3 linked regions of the Homo sapiens genome follow. The protein of the gene in region 1 binds, or shares a complex with, the protein of each later gene. Each region holds a gene or a part of one and is shown in the gene's direction. Other genes may lie near its edges.

Evidence for each region.
Region 2: PDRG1 (region 1) and URI1 share a complex: the UniProt entries of both Homo sapiens proteins name them as parts of the PAQosome complex.
Region 3: PDRG1 (region 1) and DNAAF10 share a complex: the UniProt entries of both Homo sapiens proteins name them as parts of the PAQosome complex.

Annotation. Positions count from the first base shown.
Region 1 is NC_000020.11:31,949,037-31,956,339, reverse strand, and holds the start of PDRG1 (p53 and DNA damage-regulated protein 1), read left to right. Parts: upstream 1-4,293; 5' UTR 4,294-4,378; coding exon 4,379-4,465; intron 4,466-5,952; coding exon 5,953-6,028; intron 6,029-7,303. UniProt on the Homo sapiens protein: May play a role in chaperone-mediated protein folding.
Region 2 is NC_000019.10:29,937,780-29,945,268, forward strand, and holds the start of URI1 (unconventional prefoldin RPB5 interactor 1), read left to right. Parts: upstream 1-4,459; 5' UTR 4,460-4,768; coding exon 4,769-4,885; intron 4,886-7,489. UniProt on the Homo sapiens protein: Involved in gene transcription regulation. Acts as a transcriptional repressor in concert with the corepressor UXT to regulate androgen receptor (AR) transcription.
Region 3 is NC_000002.12:68,129,275-68,133,530, reverse strand, and holds the end of DNAAF10 (dynein axonemal assembly factor 10), read left to right. Parts: intron 1-2,085; coding exon 2,086-2,293; 3' UTR 2,294-3,726; downstream 3,727-4,256. UniProt on the Homo sapiens protein: Key assembly factor specifically required for the stability of axonemal dynein heavy chains in cytoplasm.

The DNA of each region.
Region 1 (7,303 bases):
ACTCTGCTCATTAATTCATTCATTCAAAATTGTTTATCAAGCACCTACTGTGGGAGCCAGGCACTGTTCTAGACATTTGAGAGACATCAGTGAAGAAATGAATGAAAGATTCCTGCCCTCAAGGAGCCTCTCTTCTAGCAGAGGGAGATGAACAATAACCATAAGTAAATTATAAGGCATGCTGGGAGGTGACAAAAGTTATGATGAAAAGAAAGAAAAAGAAAAACTAGAGCAGAGGAAGTTGATCAGGAGTAGCAGGAGGGGCAGAAGTTGCATTTTAAACATGGTGGTCAGGGCAGGCTCCATTGAAAAGGTGCCATTTAAGAAAAGACTGGGCCAGACGTGGTGACTCATGCCTGTATTCTCAGCACTTCGGAAGGCCGAGGCAAGCAAATTACCTGAGGTCAGGAGTTTGAGACCAGCCTGGCCAATGTGGTGAGACCCCTGTCTTTACTAAAAAAATACAACAATTAGCTGAGCATGGTGGCACACACCTGTAATCCAAGCTATTCAGGAGGCTGAGGCAGGAGAATCACTTGAACCCAGGAGGTGGAGGTTGCAGTGAGCCAAGATTGTGCCACTGCACTCCAGCCTGGGTAACAGAGTGAGACTCCATCTTAAAAAAAAAAAAAAAAAAAGCTGGTAGATGGTGAGGGAAGGAACCATGTAGACATCAGGGAAAAGTGCAGGCAGAGGCAGCAGCCAGTGGAAAGACCCTGAGGCAGGACCACGCCTGGCTTGTGTGAGCAGCAGCAGGGAGGTGGGTGATGACCCAGAGAGGGGGACACTTTTCCAGTGAACAAGACAGACAAGGTCTCTGCCCTGGGGAGCTCATGATTACAAAGCAAGGTGTTTAGAGAACAAAGATGGTATGGGAAGTACAGAGACAAGGGAAGTCCAAAAAACTGTGGGGGCCCAGAGAGGACTCTTGACCCTCAGGAGGAGGTAACCCCAAGCTGAGCAGTGGGGGATATGGAATAGTGACACGTGAATAAAGGCATGGGAGAAAATTAATCCAGAACGATGGGGGAGTATGTGCAAAGGCCCTGAGAATCCCACCACTGGTCACCACCCCCACTGCTATCTCTTGGTGCAGTGGCCACCCTCTCCTGCCTAGATGATTATAGCAGCCTCCTCTTGGGTCTCTCACAGAGGGGCAAAGAAGCTAGAGTATACAGTCACTAACGACTCTCTTTTCTTGGTAGGAGTTCACACTCGTGGATATTAATTCACTGCATTCCCCTCTCAACCTGCATCCATGAGCAGAGAGAAGCAGGAAGCCACAGGCATACACAGCAGTGTCTGCAGGTGACCTCTGGGGAGGCCCTAGTGGATTTTGGGTGGGGCACTGCCAGCACCTTCCACAGCCCTGTGTGCTCAATGTCTCCTTCTCCTCTCTGTCCTACCCTCTCCCCCTCACTAATTCTATTCAAATACACTGGCTGTTCCCTCTGCCTGGAATGCTCTTCCCCTAGATATCCACAAGGCTCACCCCCTCATCTCCTCCACACTTCTGTTCAAATGCCATCTCCTCAAAGACACCCTCTCTGACCAGCTTATCTCAAATAGCCCCTCCATTATTCCACCTCCACCTTGTCCTGTGCTATCTTTTCTTTTCTTATCTTTTCTTTTCTCCTTCCTTCCTTCCCTCCTTTCTTCCTTCCTTCCTTCCTTCCTTCCTTTCTTTCTTTCTTTCCTTCTTTCTTTCTTTTTCTTTCTTTCTCTCTTTCTTTTCTTTTCTTTTTTAGAGAAAGGGTCTCACTCTGTCACCCAGGCTGGGTTACAGTGGCACGATTGTAGCTCACTGCAGCCTTGAACTCCTGTGCTCAAGTGATCCTCCCACCTCAGCCTCCTGAGTAGCTGAGACAACAGCCGCACACCACTACATCTGGCTAACTTTTTAATTTTTATTTTTTTGGTAGAGATGGGGGTCTTGCTATGTTTCCCAGGCTGGTCTCGAACTCCTGGGTTCAAGTGATTCTCCACTTTGGCCTCCCAAAGTATTGGGATTACAGGTGTGAGCCCCCACATCAAGCCGCTATTTTTTTGGTAGCACTTTTTACCACCTGACATATGATATATTTACTTGTTTTATGTTGATTGTTTCTCTCACCAGACTGGGAGATTCCTGAGAGCAGGGACCATGTCCAGTTTTGCTCATGGCAGAATCCCTATCACAGGGCCTGGGAAGTCAATACATAATTGTGAAATAAATGGCTCTGAAATTGAAATGCTCTCCGAGAGTCTTTCTGGGTCTGACCATTTCAAAGTCTTGGAAATGACTATGATTCCCCTCCCCAACATTTCCAGTGGCCAGGGGTGGCCTCTAAAGGCCAGTTACCGCCAAGAAGCTGCTAATGTGGGAGCCTCCCTCAGCCTCTCCCCATCCAGGCCCATGTGGTAGGGGTCAAGGGTCAACCTGGTCCAGCCCTCTGTGGGTCCCAAGGTGGAGGAGACGCAGTGCTGGGGTCCAGGCCGAGGGATGCCTGGTGAGCCCCATTTCTGCTTTGGCAAACATCCCCCTTTCCTTCTCAGGGCCTGTGCCTGCATTTCTGAACCAGAAGGTGTTTATACAAAACATCCTGGGTTTGGCGACAAATTCACCCTCAGTGAGGAATCCTTAATGAATCTCCCTCCTTCCCCACACCAGGTGGCTGAAGGAAAAATTAGCTCTGCCTCTGGTAGTTGAAGGCAGCCAATGGCTAGGCAACATAGAGGTGCTGCTGGGGCTTCTGGGGCCACAATTTTTGGGGAGGGTTTTTTCAGGGTCCGGAAATGGCATGGACACCAGGCACTCCTGGCTTGCTGTGTGATGAGGCACTGCCTTTCTCCTGGCCTCAGTCTGCAGCTGTGAAATGGGGCAGTAATAATCCCATCCATACAAAGGTTGCTTTGACACTCAAGTAAGGCAAGGGGTGTGAAGGGGCTTGGTTACAAGAGGTCAAAAGGAGAGAATAAAACGCTGGAATCAGGGAGGCGAGACATCAGAGTGATAATATCGGTTCTGCTCTTTAGACTTTCAAAGTCCTTTCCCAGCGCCTTTTACAGCCATGTGGGCTCAATGCCTCCTTCCCTCTGACCTCCTGCCTGCTTCCCCCCCGCCCATTCTGTTCCACATACGCTGGCTGTTCCCTCTGCCTGGAACACTCTTCTCCTAGGCATCCACATGGCTCACCCCTCACCTTCTTTTCAAAGCCTTGCCTCTCTCTGAGGTTTGTTTTTTCCAGCTATCCAATGAGGAGTTTGGGCGTGAAGACCTCGTGGGAACCCTCTGGTTCTGATGGTAACCATTTTCCACCTGCCTGCCTTCTCTGGGAAGTCCTCCCAATCCTACCACCCACACCCACCTGCTTTTCTGAGCTAGCACTTCATTGCTTACTGCCCATAGTTTTCAAGTCCCTTCCTTATGTATAGGCCAGCTACTCTGGACATTGGGCCCAACACAGGGGCTCAAGTGAACTCTGGTTAAACGGAATTAAAAGTGATTACTGCTTCCTTTGTTTTTTGAGACAGAGTCTCGTTTTGTCACCCGGGCTGGAGTGCAGTGGTGCCATCATAGCTCAGGGCAGCCTCGACTCCCCAGATGCAGGTGCTCCTCCCGCCTCAGCCTCCTGAGTAGCTGGGACCAACGGGCGCGCCCCCCCTCACCCAGCTAATTTTTTTTTTTTGTATTTTTAGTAGAAACGGAGGTTTTACTGTGTTGCCCAAGCTGGTCTCGAACTCCTGGGCTCAAGTGATCCCCCCGCTTTGGCCTTCCAAAGTACTGGGATTACAGGCATGAGCCACTGCGCCCAGCTGATTCCTGCTTCCTTCCGATCCTGTGGAGAGACACTGAGGCGGATTTTTATTCACCCCCTTTTTATAAATTAGAAACTGAAAGTGTCAGAGATTAAACATAAGTCACACTGCCACATGGGCCTTCTTGGTGTTTCTTAGCCAGGGGAAGAATAATATTTCCCAGATCCTAATCACTACCTGCCACGGTATATAATTGTTTTGCCATTAATTGTCGGTGTTTCCCACTAGGATGAAGTTCCATGAGGGCAGGGATTTTGTTGTGTTCACTGCTGCATCCTAAGCACATAAAACTGCTTGGCACATAATAAGTGCTCAAGAAGCATGAACCGAGGGAGTAACGGGTCAGAGGCAGCCCGAGGACTGAGCTCTCTGAGCCTGCAGAGGGCGCTCCAGCCCCGCCCCCAAAGCTAGGCCCCGCCTCTCGCAGCCGGCTGGCGCACTAGTGTTAGAGCCTGCGCACCACCGTTCTTTTAACTGCGCAGGCGCGCCGGAAGCACCTAGAGAGCGGCGCGTGCGCAGCGGGAGTCGAAGCGGAGATCCCGGGGTCGCGCGAGAGCCGCAAGCGGAGTTGGTGGGCGCTATGCTATCACCCGAGGCAGAGCGAGTGCTGCGGTACCTTGTAGAAGTGGAGGAGCTCGCCGAGGAGGTGCTGGCGGACAAGCGGCAGGTGAGAGGCCCCTCCGCGGCGCTGGGGCCTGGCGGCCGGCGCCGTGGGAAAGCGCGCGGGGTCGCAGTGAGTTGACCTGGACAGGCGGTTAACGGCTCCGAGGCGACAGACCTGGGCCGATAAATATTCGGCCGCTACTAAGTGAGCGCCTGCGCTATGCTGGACATTCCTCTCTCTTCATCCTTTCTCTGCCCCTTGCCATGCTCTGTGGATCTCGACCCATCATGCTCTGGGCCGTTTCCCTGAGCACCTGTTTCAAAATGCACTTCCCGGCCCCATGGTTGATCTAGGGGCACCGCCCTGTAAAGGCCCTCAGGGGAGAGCTGGAACCGAAAAGAAGCCTGAGGGGGCCTTGTGACCGGGCAGGGGTGGGGACGTGGGGGAAGGTGGCGCCCTGTTTATGGGGTGTCTTGTTTTAAGTGCCAAGTTTTTGAGGGGAGTTCCTGGGGGAAGGAGGGTGACGTAATTGGATTTAGGTTTTAAAAGGATCCCCCCTGGCTGCTGTGTGGAATACAGAATATAGGTGGGCAAGGGCGGAGGCAGGGAGATGGGTGAGGGGCCATTGGTATGGTCCAGACCAGAGATGGATTTGGACTAGGTAGTGGTGGTGGAGAGAAGTGAAGGGGTCAGAAATGTATTTTGGAGACAGACTCAGTAGGCCGTGGTAGTGGAGCCGGGGGAGTCGTGACTCCCTCTCATCTCCAGTTAGAAGGGTCAGGTATTTACTGAGAAGGGGAAAACTTGGGCAAGATCCTGTCAAATTAAGTACTGGATCAGGGTGTGCTGGATGAGAATAAGAGCAGTTAAAGTTTATCAGCTACTTACTATGTGCCAGGTACTGTGTTAAGTCATTTAATTGCTGGCTCAATAACCTGTAAGGTAGGTACTGTCCGTAGCTCCATTTTGAGGAGGAGTAAATAGGAAGGTGAAATTACACAGCTTGAGGCAGATAGCAGGATTCGAACCTGGGTATTCCAAATCCAGAACCAGCACTCGTGCAGTATACTGTACTACTGCGTCACTTCCTTAGTAGCTATTGTGTTGTTACCACTGTCTCAGTGCCCCCAATCCTGCTGTTCCAATCTAGTATTGTTGGGTTTCTCATATTACTAGTTCAGAATCAGCTGGAGAAGTTTGTCCAAAAATAAACATTAGGCCTGCTTAATCACAGTGTGTAGGGGAAGGGTTTCCACTCCCCTGGTGATTCTGATATGCCCTAAAGTTCGAGTGGATAATGCAGAATTTCCCATTTAGTCAGCACATGTTTTCTCAGCATCTTTTCTGGGGAGAGGGCAGCTGCACAAAGCATTGTCTTTAAGACCAGGAAGCTGAGTGAGAGAAGAAATACATTCACACATCAATCCATTTTAGGCAGGACGTTGAATGTAATCAGGAATAATGCATTGCCTCTGCAACCCTTGTCTGTCAAGAGGTGACAGCTTGGGGCAAGAGATAGCTGAGTTCCCTCCTGTCCCTGTGGTTTTCAGATTGTGGACCTGGACACTAAAAGGAATCAGAATCGAGAGGGCCTGAGGGCCCTGCAGAAGGATCTCAGCCTCTCTGGTAAGTTGAAATTTTCTCAGTGCAGCCCTGGAGGCCTGTTCCGTTTTCCTTTAAGGCCTTTACCTTGTTCCTGATAGAGATCAGGCAGGAGGTCACAGCTGTATAACTCAGCCTTGTGGGAAATTGAAACAGTCCGGGGAGATGGGGGAGCAAATTTTGCAGTTCTGGCACAGACTGTGGTTCAGGATTTTGCCTGCTCACTTCAGTGACAGGTCGTTAGCTCCTGGCTTATCAACGATGGCAGACACTGAGAGAGTGCCGGGGGTGTATAAAACTGATGGTTCCTGCCCTTGTGCTTTACAGATGAGGAAAACAACGTAAAATGCGTAATTGAAAATTGTAAGAAAGCCAGAGATGGAATTGGACTTGGGGTGGGTGTTGAGAATATATATCCAGAAGAATGGGACACTTTAGATGAGGCCAAGTGGCTGTGGCAGTGGAAGCAAATGGGGAGTAAGTATGGCTGGAGAGAGGGACAGAGACCAGGCCATAATGAAAGGTCTTGGGGGCTAAGGGAGGAAGTTTACATTTTGTTGAAAGTACACTAGAATGTGCAGAATCTTCCAGTTGCTTCTCATCTCACCTGAGTAAAATCCAGAGGTCCTACAAGACCGAGTAATCCAGCCCCCATGAATCCATGAGTGTGCCAATATCATCTCTACTCCCCCCACCCCCAACATGACTCCACCTACACTGGTCTCCTTGCTGTTCTTTTATTTATTCATTTATTTATTTATTTGGAGACAGAGCCTTGCTCTGTCACCCAGACTGGAGTGCAGTGGCATGATCTTGGCTCACTGCAACCTCTGTCTCCCAGGTTCAAGTGATTCTTGTGCCTCAGCCTCCTGAGTAGCTGAGATTACAGGCGTGTGCCACCACACCCAGCTAATTTTTGTATTTTTAATAGATACAGCGTTTCGCCATGTTGGCCAGGCCGGTCTCGAGGTCCTGGCCTCAAGTGATCCACCTGCCTCGGCCTCCCAAAGTGCTGGGATTACAGGCGTGAGCCACTGCGCCCGGCCCCTTGCTGTTCTGAACACCCCAAGCACACTACTGATCTTTGCTGTTCCTGTTGTTTCCTCTGTTTGGCTCACTCTTTCCCCAGATGTCTGCAGGGCTCACACTCTCACTTTCCTTAGGTCTCTGTGTAGATAGCATATAATCAGTAAGGCCTTCTCAGACTACCTGCTATGATTAACAAGGTCCTCCTCTGGCATTCCCTAGCCATCTTAGCCTGCTTTATTTTTCTCTACAACTCTTAAGGTCTGACAAATC
Region 2 (7,489 bases), on another chromosome or scaffold:
CAGGACTCAAAAATGCCCCAATTTTTGGAGGACAAGGGTCATCTTGCCCACCTTGCAACCAGCCAGCCATTCCAGGAAAGCTATTCCTGCAGCCTCATGGTAGGGTGAGGGCTGAGAAATGGGGCATGGCAGCTGTTTTGCATCCACCCTGTTGCTGTTCTCTTACCAACAACCAGCAGCCTCTTTTTTCATCAAGAACTCCCCTGGCTGTTTATTCATGTCTCATGAGGTTTGCCTGTCTAATTTTTTGTATCTTTAGTAGAGATGGGGTTTCACCATATTGGCCAGGCTGGTCTCGAAATCCTGACCTCAGGAGATCCATCTGCTTTGGGCTCCCAAAGTTTTGGGATTACAGATGTGAATTATTGTGCCCAGCCAAGGCTGGGTAATTTGTAAAGAAAGGAGGTTTATTTGGCTCGCAGTTCTGTGGGCCATACAAGCATGTGGCACCAACACCTGCTCGGTTTCTGGTGAGGCCTCAGGAAGCTTCCAATCATGGTGGAAGGCAAATGGGGAGCTGCACGTCACATGGCAAGTGGAAGTAAGAGCTAGGGAGCAAGAGAGGAAGGAGGAGGTGCCAGGCTCTTTTAAACAACCAGCTTTCATGTGAACTCATTACTGCAGAAGAGCAGCAAACCATTCATGAGGGATCCGCCCCCAAGACCCAAACACCTCCCACTAGGCCCCACTTCCAACATTAGGGATCACGTTTCAACATGAGATTTTGAGGGAACAATATCCAAACCATGTTAGTGGCCCTCTATTGACTCCAACATCTATGAACAGGGCTGGTGCTTGCCTTGGTCAACTCTTGTCTCCCATTCCCAGTGGGGGGCCTGGCACATGAAGAAGGGATTAACCAATAATAAGTAATAAAGTAATAAGGTAATAAAATAATATTTACTTTTTTTTTTTGAGACAGAGTCTCACTCTGTCACCCAGGCTGGAGTGCAGTGGCACCATCTCGGCTCACTGCAAGCTCTGCCTCCCGGGTTCATGCCATTCTCCTGCCTCAGCCTCCTGAGTAGCTGGGACTACAGGTGACTGCCACCACACCTGGCTAATTTTTTGTGTTTTTAGTAGAGATGGGGTTTCACCATGTTAGCCAGGATGATCTCGATCTCCTGACCTCAGGATCTGCCCACCTCAGCCTCCCAAAGTGCTGGGATTACAGACATGAGCCACTGTGCCTGGCCTACCATTTTTTTTTTTTTCTGAGAGGAGTTTCACTCTTGTTGCCCAGGCTGGGGTGCAATGGCATGATCTCGGCTCACTGCAACCTCCACTTCCAGGGTTCAAGTGATTCTCCTGCCTCAGCCTCCCCAGTAGCTGGGATTACAGGCATGCACCACCACACCTGGCTAATTTTGTATTTTTAGTAGAGGTGGGGTTTATCCATGTTGGTCAGGCTGGTCTTGAACTCCCGACCTGAGGTGATTTGCCTGCCTTGGCCTCCCAAAGTGCTGGGATTACAGGCGTGAGCCACTGCGCCTTGCCAATTTTTTTTTTTTTTTAGACGAAGTGTCATTCTGTTGCCCAGGCAGGAGTGCAGTGGCATGATCTCTGCTCACTGCAACCTCTGCCTCCCAGGTTCAAGCGATTCTCCTACCTCAGCCTCCCGAGTAGCTGGGATTACAGGTGTGTGCCACCACGGCGGCTAATTTTTGTATTTTTAGTAGAGATGGGGTTTCATCATGTTGGCCAGGCTGGTCTCAAACTCCTGACCTCAAATGATCCGCCTGCCTCCACCTCCCAAAGTGCTGGGATTACAGGCATGAGCCACTGCGCCCGGCCAAAGCTGATCATTTGAAAGTGTGATAAGTGCTACAAAGAAAATTTAAAAAGTGAGGTGAGGGCAGATGCCTAGAGGAGAGGGGAGGGGCTTTTGTGGACAGGAGATCAAGAAAGCCCTGTTATTATTTGAACTGAGGCCTGAGTAATGGCAAGGAGGCAACCATGGAAAGATATGGGAGAAATATTGCAGGCAGAGAGATCAGCAGGTGCAAAGGCCCTGAGGCAGGAACTAGTCTGGAGTATCTGAAGAAGAGAGAAATTGTTGTGGTTGGCTTGAGTGGTAGGGGGCTTGGTTGGAGGTGGGGAAGGTGGGTCCGACAATGCTGAATTCTAGTAGGATGTCTGGATTTGATTCTGGTTGCTGTGGGAAGCCATGGAGGGCCCTAGAAGGGAGACTGACATGACCTGATCCCCTTTGAAAAGCTCACCCAGACTGCTGAGTGGATAATAGTTTAGAGGTGTGCGAATTGGATGTCTTTGGCTGCTCATGATAGAAAATTGTCCTGGTCATTTAGAAAATTTACTGGCCTTTTAAACGGGAAGTTCAGAAGTGATGCAGACTCCAGAGCTGGTTGATTCAGCCCTGGATCAAGTTCTGTGATGCTGTCAAGGATTGGGTTCTGTTCTCAGCTCTGCTGACCACAGATCGCACTTCATTCTGAGTACTGGAGTGTCTAGGTGGTCTGGGGGGCTGTCTGATACACATGGGGCTACCTGCTTTGCACTTCCTGGCCAAGGGGATAGACTGATTCCTTATGGGAGCACTTTTGAAGAATGAGGAAGAACCTTCTCAGGAGAGGCGTGGTGGCTCTTGCCTGTAATCCCAGCACTTTAGGAGGCCAAGGCGGGTGGATCACTTGAGGCCAGGAGTTTGAGACCAGCCTGGCCAACATGGTGAAACCCTGTTTCTACTAAAAATACAAAAATTAGCCAGGTGTGGTGGCACGCGCCTGTAGTCCCAGCTACTCAGGAGGCTGAGGCAGGAGAATCGCTTGAACCCAAGAGGCAGAGGGTGCAGTGAGCCAAGATGGCACCATTGCACTCCAGCCTGGGCAACAGAGGAAAAAAAAAAGAACCTTCCCAGAAGCCTCCAGGAAGTCTCTGTTTGGACGACATCGCACACCCATTCTTGAACCAACTATTTAGAAGGGAGATGCATCACCCCCTTTGCCTGGAGCTAGGGGGTGGGTCAGCTTCCTACAGGCACAGGACTATGTGGTCGCGGGTTAAGCCCCTAAACGAGGGGAAGTGGGGTGGGCAGCAGCCGATCTCCATTACAAGGGACAAGAGTAGGGGCAGCAAGGCCAGATCAATGGTTGCTGAGGTGGCTGGGGATGGAGAGAGGATGGTGGTGGTAGAAGAGATGGTAACAATGGTCAGGTCCTGGCTGTTCCAGAGGTGATGATGGTTGGATATGCAGTGAGGAAAAGACAGGAATGAACATTTATCTTTTCCCAAGTTGTCCTTGCTTTCTTCCTTTGAAGCCATAAAAAGGAAAAAAAGGGTGGATCTGGACTTGGGAGCTGGGCAGGAGTGAGGGAAGAGAAGCAGAGCAAGCAGGCACACCAGGCTGTGACTCTGCAGGCATCTCTCTGCCTAGACTTGTCTGTATGATGTGGAACGAACACGACCCATCTTTACTGCTAGCGACTGCAGCAGATAAGGCAAGGCCACTTTCACGCAGTTAGGTTAATAGGAGGCTGTACAAAGGGCTGTAGGAGGAAGTGGGCACAGGAGTTCTAAAATAATTGGAACGGCCAGGTGTGGTAGCTCACACCTGTAATCCTAGCACTTCAGGGAATCCAAGACAGGAGGTTAGCTAAGACAGGAGGCTCGCTTAATGTCAAGACCAGCCTGGGCAACATAGGGAGACCCCGCCTCTACAAAAAATAGAAAAATTAACAGGATGTGTTGGTGCGGGCCAGTGGTCCCAGCTACTCCTGAGGCTGAGGTGGGAAGATCGCTTGAGTCTAGGAGTTTGAGGCTGCAGTGAGAAATGATGGCACTACTGCACTCCAGCCCGGGCGACAGACCAAGACTCAGTCTCTTAAAAAAAAAAAAAAAAAAAAGAAAAGTGGGGGCAAAGTTATCCTTGGAAAATTTCTTAGTCCATTCATAGCAGCATATTAAAATTAGTACAGTAGCTTAATTTATATAAGAGAAAATACAATGTGTACAGTAATTAATGAACATGCAAAATATAATTGTATATTTCAACTCACTAAAAAGGCACAGAAAGAGTTGAATTTGCTAAAATTAAATGTGCTTATGAAACAGCTCTAGTACATGAATTAAGCTCCTAGATACAGATGCAGCGCCAAACGACGGGGAGGGAGATGGGGCACTCAAGGCGACACGCGGCTCTTGTTGCCGAGCGTTTCCTGGGCGTGGAGCTTCTATAGAATGTAAGCTTTTTTTTTTTAAGGTTCCAAAGCCTATATTTAGTGCTTTCATATACGTAATCTCAAAAAAAAAAAAAGAAAGAAATATCGGCATAAAATGTAAGCTTCCAGAGGGATACAAACGCAGCCCAGCGCGGACACCGCCAGCCCCAGCCACGCGGTTCGCATCAAGCGCACTCCCCTGGGGGCGGGGCCTGCGCGAGCTGGGCGTGTCGGGGGCGGGGCCTGCGCGCTTGCTTCCGGCGTGCCGCGAGAGGCGGGGCGTGTGGGGAGGCGCGGCCGCCACGCGACGCCTGGCTGGGCCCGCACCGGAGAGGCGTCTCGGTACCTGGCAGGCGGCCTGCTACTCGGAGCCCGCTGCGGGGCGGCGGCGGCGGGGACATGCACGTGTGAGATGCGGCAGCGGGCGGCGCGGACGCGAACAGCAGCGGCGGCGGCGGGCGCGGCCTCCTGGGCGCGGGGCGCGCGGTGCCTGAGGGCGGGCGCGCGGGCGCTGGGCAACTGCCGGCCGCGCCGCCTGCGCAGGCGCTGGTTCAGGACTCACACGCCGCGCTGAGGCCCGCGGGCCCGTCATGGAGGCGCCCACCGTGGAGACGCCCCCCGACCCCTCGCCCCCTTCGGCCCCGGCCCCTGCCCTGGTTCCGTTGCGCGCCCCGGATGTGGCGCGGCTGCGCGAGGAGCAGGAAAAGGTAACTAGCAGCCCCGCGCCGCTTCCGCCTCCGCCCGCCGGGCTGCCCCTGCCTGTGCTCTGGGCCGCCGCCCCGCGTGGCCTAGGCCCAGCTGCCCGGGCCCCCGGAGGGAACGGGGATAAACTTTTGTCACGTGCTTCTGTTGTCTTTGTCTGCAGCCCTTTGACTTCGCAGCGGAGTGAGGGGTGTGCAGCCCGTTCGCCTGCCCAGGAAAGGGGGCTTCTGAGCTGAAGGCGTGCGGCAGCGCGTGGGAATTTGGGGGCGGGGGCAGCACGCTGTCAACGGAAGCGTTCGCCTTAATATTTGTAGCTTGTAATGACCTAAACATTGCTTAAAATGTGTACTGTTTGTTGCTCTTTGATTGCACGGAAAAGTTTTACCGCGTTTGTCATGATAATGCTTCCTGTGCAATATTTGGTTATTTAATATTTGTCACAATATAATGCCATTTAAACATTAAAAAAAAAAGAGAGTCTCACTATGTTGCCCAGGCTAATCTCGAACTTCTGGCCTCAAGCGATCCTCCCCCTCCTACCCTTCCCCACCTCGCCTCCCAAAGTGTTGGGATTATAGGCCTGAGTCACCGCACCCGGCTCATTTTTACAAATTTTAATTTCATCGTATAATAAATGAGTTTTAAACTACTGGTGAAAAGGGTACAAAGTTTTGTGTTTCCTAGTGGGACTTTATATAAAGAAGTATTCCCAATTTAAGAAATAGTTTTATTGTTAAATCTGATTTTTCTGTGGATTCTGTGGTCTTTCAGATTGATTCTGTCCCCTCAAGTGTCTTGAAATTGTTACTTTGAAAAGCAGTATTTAATTTGCTTAAAATATTTTATGTCATGTTTGGAAGAGCATGGATTATAAAGGGTTAGGAAGTTGCTTCAACACTATAAGCAGTTTAAAAGTTCTTAACTTTTTAATTGAACATTCCTGTATAAGAACGACTGTTTACATAGATACAAAAATATACTCAGTTCTACTAGATGGGGGTTTTGATAGAACTTAAAAAACCCTCGTTTGCTTGGAAACCACCTGTTGGGATGAACTGCGGGAATCTTTCTTTGTTCTGGTTGGTTTAAATTATTTTGTGGGTTGGATTTTCATTTCTCAGCCATTTTTCTCTAATAACGCAACTGTTAGGTTTGGAAGCCATGTTTTCAAGATGAAGGTTTAAAAATCCAGTGGCTAGGGTGGTGACTCAAACCTGTAATCCCAGCTGCTTGGGATGTCAAGGTCGTGGAATTGCTTGAAGCCAAGGAGTTCGAGATCAGCCTGGGCAACACAGGGAGACCTCCGTCTATACAAAAAAATACAAAAAATTAGCCGGGCCATGGTGGTGCACGCTTGTAGTCCCACGTACTTGGGAGGCTGAGGTGAGAGGATCACTTGAGCTCAGGCGTTTGAGGCTGCAGTGGGCCATGGTCATGCAACTGCACTTCACCCTGGGCGACAGAGTGAGACCCTGTCATTCATATATATATATATATATATATATATATATATATATATATATATATATATATAAAACTTAACTAGTTTGGCGTCTTTAAATTAGAAGACATTAATGTATTTTTTTAAAAGAGAAAGATAGAAAAAGAAGAAAGAAAAAACAGCCCCTCATGAAATCTTACTCCTTTTGCCAAAACTTGGCATTTTTTATTCTTTCAGAGAATGTGACACAGACCCTCAGAGGATGGTGTTTCTATTGCCTTTCCTCTGCTGCAGTGGGTTAATTTCACCTCCTTCAGTGTATAATACGTGCATAATGCTGACTTGATATGTTTTCTGCCATTTGGCATATTAAAAAGATATCCTTAGTTTTATTCTGATGTTAGTGTGACTGAAATGCAAAGGATACTTTTTGGGGTGCTCTGAACAGCTTTCTGGTATCGTGTTGAGTTACATTGGAAGAGAGAGTAACTGCTTTTTCAGTTACAGTCTTGTGGCAAACTGAATGACTGTTTTCTGTAGACATTGACTGTGCTACCAAATTATTTTTCTGTGTTGTGTTAATGTTAATTCGGCACACAAAATAACCACGTATATCTGTCATGGGTGTGTAAAATTATCCCCAGTTCAGGAAAAAGCGCGTCAGTATTTAATCTATCTTTATTTAATAGAAGCATTTGCTTCAGTGGACAGGAGACCCACAAGGCCACAAAATAAACTGATTAGATAGCTGCACTGTAATTATAGTGTAGTACAGGAAAACTACCCAGTAAATCGGCAGTGAAAATTTTTTGTGAAGCAATTTATTTAGGCTTTAAAGCTGGCCCAGTTGTGGGAGTACAGTGAGTTCTAGTAAAGTAGAAGCGTAGTGACATCCTGAGTGTAGAAGGGGAAAATGTCATAGTAGCTTCATATGTGGCACTTAGTATTCCTTTATGAAAGATGAATCAAACATGCTTTTAAGCTCTTGGCCTTTCCCTACATGGGTTTTGTGAGACAGAGTTAAACTCTGCAGAAAATGATTTGAATGACTGTTCTCAGTTTTCCCTGAGAGGGTACCTACCTAGTTGGCTGTAGATGCAGAGAGAGAAATGAGTTCCTTACACACAGTGGGTGCCTTAGGCTTAGGGCATAATCTTCTCTGGGAGCC
Region 3 (4,256 bases), on another chromosome or scaffold:
TTCACCTGCCTCGGCCTCCCACAGTATTGGAATTATGGGTGTGAGCCACTGCACCCAGCCAGAGTGAACACTTTAGATCGAAGCAGTATGATTATGGCAAAACCGGGTCTCTACTAAAAATACAAGAACTAGCCGGGCGTGGTGGCACACGTCCCAGCTACTTAGGAGGCTGAGGCACGAGAATTGCCTGAATCTGGGAGGTGGAGGTCTCAGTGAGTCGAGATCGCACCACTGCACTCCAACCTGGGTGACAGAGTGAGACAGAGCGACAGAGACTTTTTCTGTCTCAACAAACAAACAAACAAACAAACAACCAATATGGTTTCTGAGTGAAAAGCAGAGGAAAAGTTTGAGTCGTTCTGGGAGAATGTGGGGTAGAGAGATCACTTGCTACTTTCCCTTCTTCTAGCACCTCTGCCTGTTGTTCTTCCCTGATTCTTCCATCCCGGTCTCCTCCCCACGTTAGACTCTGCCAGTCCCCTTAGTGAAGCCATGTGGTGGCACATCACTATTTTACTTGGTGACCAAACTCTTTAGGCTGCTCGCTTGAAGAACTAGTCCCAGTTTTCTTTGTAATCTACACATGGATTTGTATTCCATGAGGCACACGAACACTTTCGCAGCTGGAATTTTTTACTACAGCGGATTTAGTTCCGTCAGTAAAGTTAGGTCTGTATGCAAATTTGAAGTTTAGCGCAATGTAAACTTTACACCTAACCAGAACAGATGTCCAGTCTAATCTTCAAATCGGTTTGGAGTTTTACTGTCAAGTATTGTACCAGCAAAGGGAATTGGTTTAAGTACAATGATATTTAGCTTTATTTTCATTTGCCAGTCTGTCTTGGTAGTAATGCAATTAAATTGTAAATATTTATTGACCACTGAACGAACAGCTTCTACAAGAAATCATCTAGTTATTCACGACTTGTTTTTTGAATGAAAAACTTCAACATGCTGATTTTTTTTCCAAGTATTTGAATCATATACACATATTCTTTTAAAACTTCAACAGATAATATGGAGGGTTTTAAAAATTTTTTATGTTATCTTTTGAATACTAAATAACTGCAGCCTTTGCCAAGAGATATGTGAAAGGTGTCTGTATTTAAACCATTTATTCATCTGAATGTTTTATTTTTTTTCATCAAAATGATTTGTAGGGTTTGAGAGGAAGAGAAAATAGTAGATCATCCACCTGTAGATTCTTCTTCCCTTTCCATTCTGCTTCTGATTGGCTTTGTGCTTCTTACGTTCTTGGCCTTTGCCAGCATGTATGAAATAAAGATGTTGTCATAATTGATACTAGTAGGTTTTAAAAGGCCTTCTGAGGAGTGATACTTTTGTATTTTATTAGGAACACATCTCTATTGGGGAGGAGTGTTCTCTTTCCCCTTTTCAAATCTAGACCAAATAGGATTTATGACTTTAACCTTCTGCTTTTCTTACTGTATAAATTTATATTTTCAGCTGAAAAAAAAAATGTTCTCAGAACCACTTTTTTCTTGTTTGAAACAATTACATTTAGGTCTAACATCTCCACCCTGTGACGCCTTCCCATAGAAATGGTACACAAAAGGTCCTTAGGCTTGGGTCCGTGTAATGGAGCTCGAGGGTTAGAAGCTGGCATCAGTTTTTCATTCTGGAAGTGTTTAGATGAAGTTCTGCAAATGTTACTTACAGCCATTGCCTTTGCACATTGTTTGCCTGTGATATCCAGCAATCTATATCTGGAGAAAAATTACAATAAATAAAAGATTGCCAAAAGCACCAAGTAAATGTATTAAAGAATCCTAGATCAACCTAGAACTTTCATATTAAAAGAGAAAATACAGATACACGTTGAGCAGAAATGACTTTTAGAAGTTTTTAGTAGAACTAATAACCCTTTTTTATGACGTGTTTTGGGATAGGATTGAGGTTGAAATTGTCTCTTTATTTGCAAACAACTCAGTATTAGAAAGATTCTTTAAGTATTTATTAGTCCCAGTAACCAACTGAGAAATAGAGTCATTGAAGTGTATGTATAAAAATAAAATGGTGAAAGCTAAGATTTATGCGCTCTTACCATTTTGATCTTGTTTTCAGTGAATACCCTATTCAGCGGTCAAAGAAAGATTCTGAGGGAATAGAAATGGGAGTCGCAGGTTCTGTAAGCCTTCTGCAGAATGTTACGTTGTCCACCCAGCCCATTTCAAGTTTGGATTGGAGTCCAGATAAAAGGGGTCTCTGCGTCTGTAGTTCATTTGACCAAACGGTGAGAGTACTGATCGTTACAAAGCTCAATAAAATTTGACTTCAAGACTTTGGACTTGAGGCTGGGCACGGTGGCTCACTCCTGTAATCCCAGCACTTTGGGAGGCCGAGGCGGGTGGATCAGAAGGTCAGGAGATCGAGACCATCCTGGCTAACATGGTGAAACCCCGTCTCTACTAAAAATATAAAAAAAAATTTGCTGGGTGTCATGGCGGGCATCTGTAGTCCTAGCTACTTGGGAGGCTGAGGCAGGAGAATGGCGTGAACCCGGGAGGCGGAGGTTGCAGTGAGCCGAGATTGTGCCACTGCACTCCAGCCTGGGCAACTGAGCAAGACTGTCTCAAAAAAAAAAAAAAAAAAAAAGACTTTGGACTTGAAACCTTCCAGAGGAACACTCACACAATTTAAGATAGGTTCTGGAGTCCTCTGACCCTCATTGAACAAAGCTGGATTTGGCTGATGATAAAAGACCCCAGCCACAAGCCTCTGGGCCAGCCTCCAGCCTCTCTCGGGGCTTGTTTGCTGACTTGCTGCTGCACGTGGGTATCAGAAGCACCAAGTAAACTATCTCCAGGGCCAGTTCTTTTCTCTCCCTTCCATTTCTAAGTCAATAGTTGTCTATAATTAAACATATTTCAGATTTGTTCTGTGTCCCTGAAGTTCCATATTTTATCTTTATGCTTGTGTTATGTTTTAGTGTCTATAATGTTGTGGTGGGAATCATTTCATTTGGTTTAAAAGAGTTTGCCTTGGAAAAACTGAATTAACCTTCATAAATACATTTTGAGAGATTTCAGTGTGAGTAATTTTCTGGACATAATATTATTGTATAAAATATCAAAATGGTGGGCCAGGCGTGGTAGCTCACGCCTGTAATTCCAGCACTTTGGGAGGCTGAGGCGGGTGAATCACGAGGTCAGGAATTCGAGACCAGCCTGGCCAACATGGTCAAAACCCGTCTCTACTAAAAATACAAAAAATTAGCTGGGCTTAGTGGCGGGCGCCTGTAATCACAGCTACTTGGGAGGCTGAGGCAGGAGAATCACTTGAACCCAGGAGGTGGAGATTGCAGTGAGCTGAGATTGCGCCACTGCACTCCAGCCCTGGCGACAGAGTGAGACTCCGTCTCAAAAAAAAAAAAAACAAATATATATATATATATCTCTCTCTCTCAAAACGGCACGGTTGGTCTAGATTTGGGTAGCTATTTTCTGCAATTTAATTCATAAAACAAAATGCTTTGATTTTAAAGAGCTCTTTTTTACTTAAAATACAGGAACTGAATTGGTGAGACTTTTGGTTTTTGACTGTGGTAAGTGATGGTGAAATGTACAAGATTGTAGGGGTTTTGTAGTCTTATTTTTGGTCATACTTTAAAAATGCATTTTATGAATAAACTTCTGTTTTTGAGATCTACAGAAGCTTTGATTCTGTTACCTTAACAGTAGTAATAAAGTTAACATTGTCACATCATTTTGCTTTATAAATGCTTAATTAGTAGTTTTAATTCACTTTGTTTCTTTAATGTTCAACATATCTTTAGCTAAGCCTTTTGGAATTATTGACTTTACCACATTTTCATTAAGCCTACCCTCCCCCACCTCCATTGAAGAGAACGCAGCCACCTAAAACATTCACAATATGTAAAGTATATGTGATTTCAGGGGATCATGGAGAGTCACTTATTTGGAATATTAAGTTAAGAAAATTAAGGTTTTTTTTTTTTTAGTTTAGAAAATTTTTAGAAGTCTCTCTTAGAACACTTGTATTTGGTAATAGAGTCAACAACAATAAATACCTGTATTTTATTAAATCTAAGATGTCATCAATATCACTGATGCTATGCCATTCAAGAAAACGGAGCCAACTAAAACATTCATAATATGCAAAATTTATGTGATTTCAGGTGATCATGGAGAGTCACTTATTTGGAATATTACGTTGAGAAAATTAAGCTTTTTTTTTGTTGTTGTTTCCAAATTTTTTTTTTTTTTTTTTTTGAG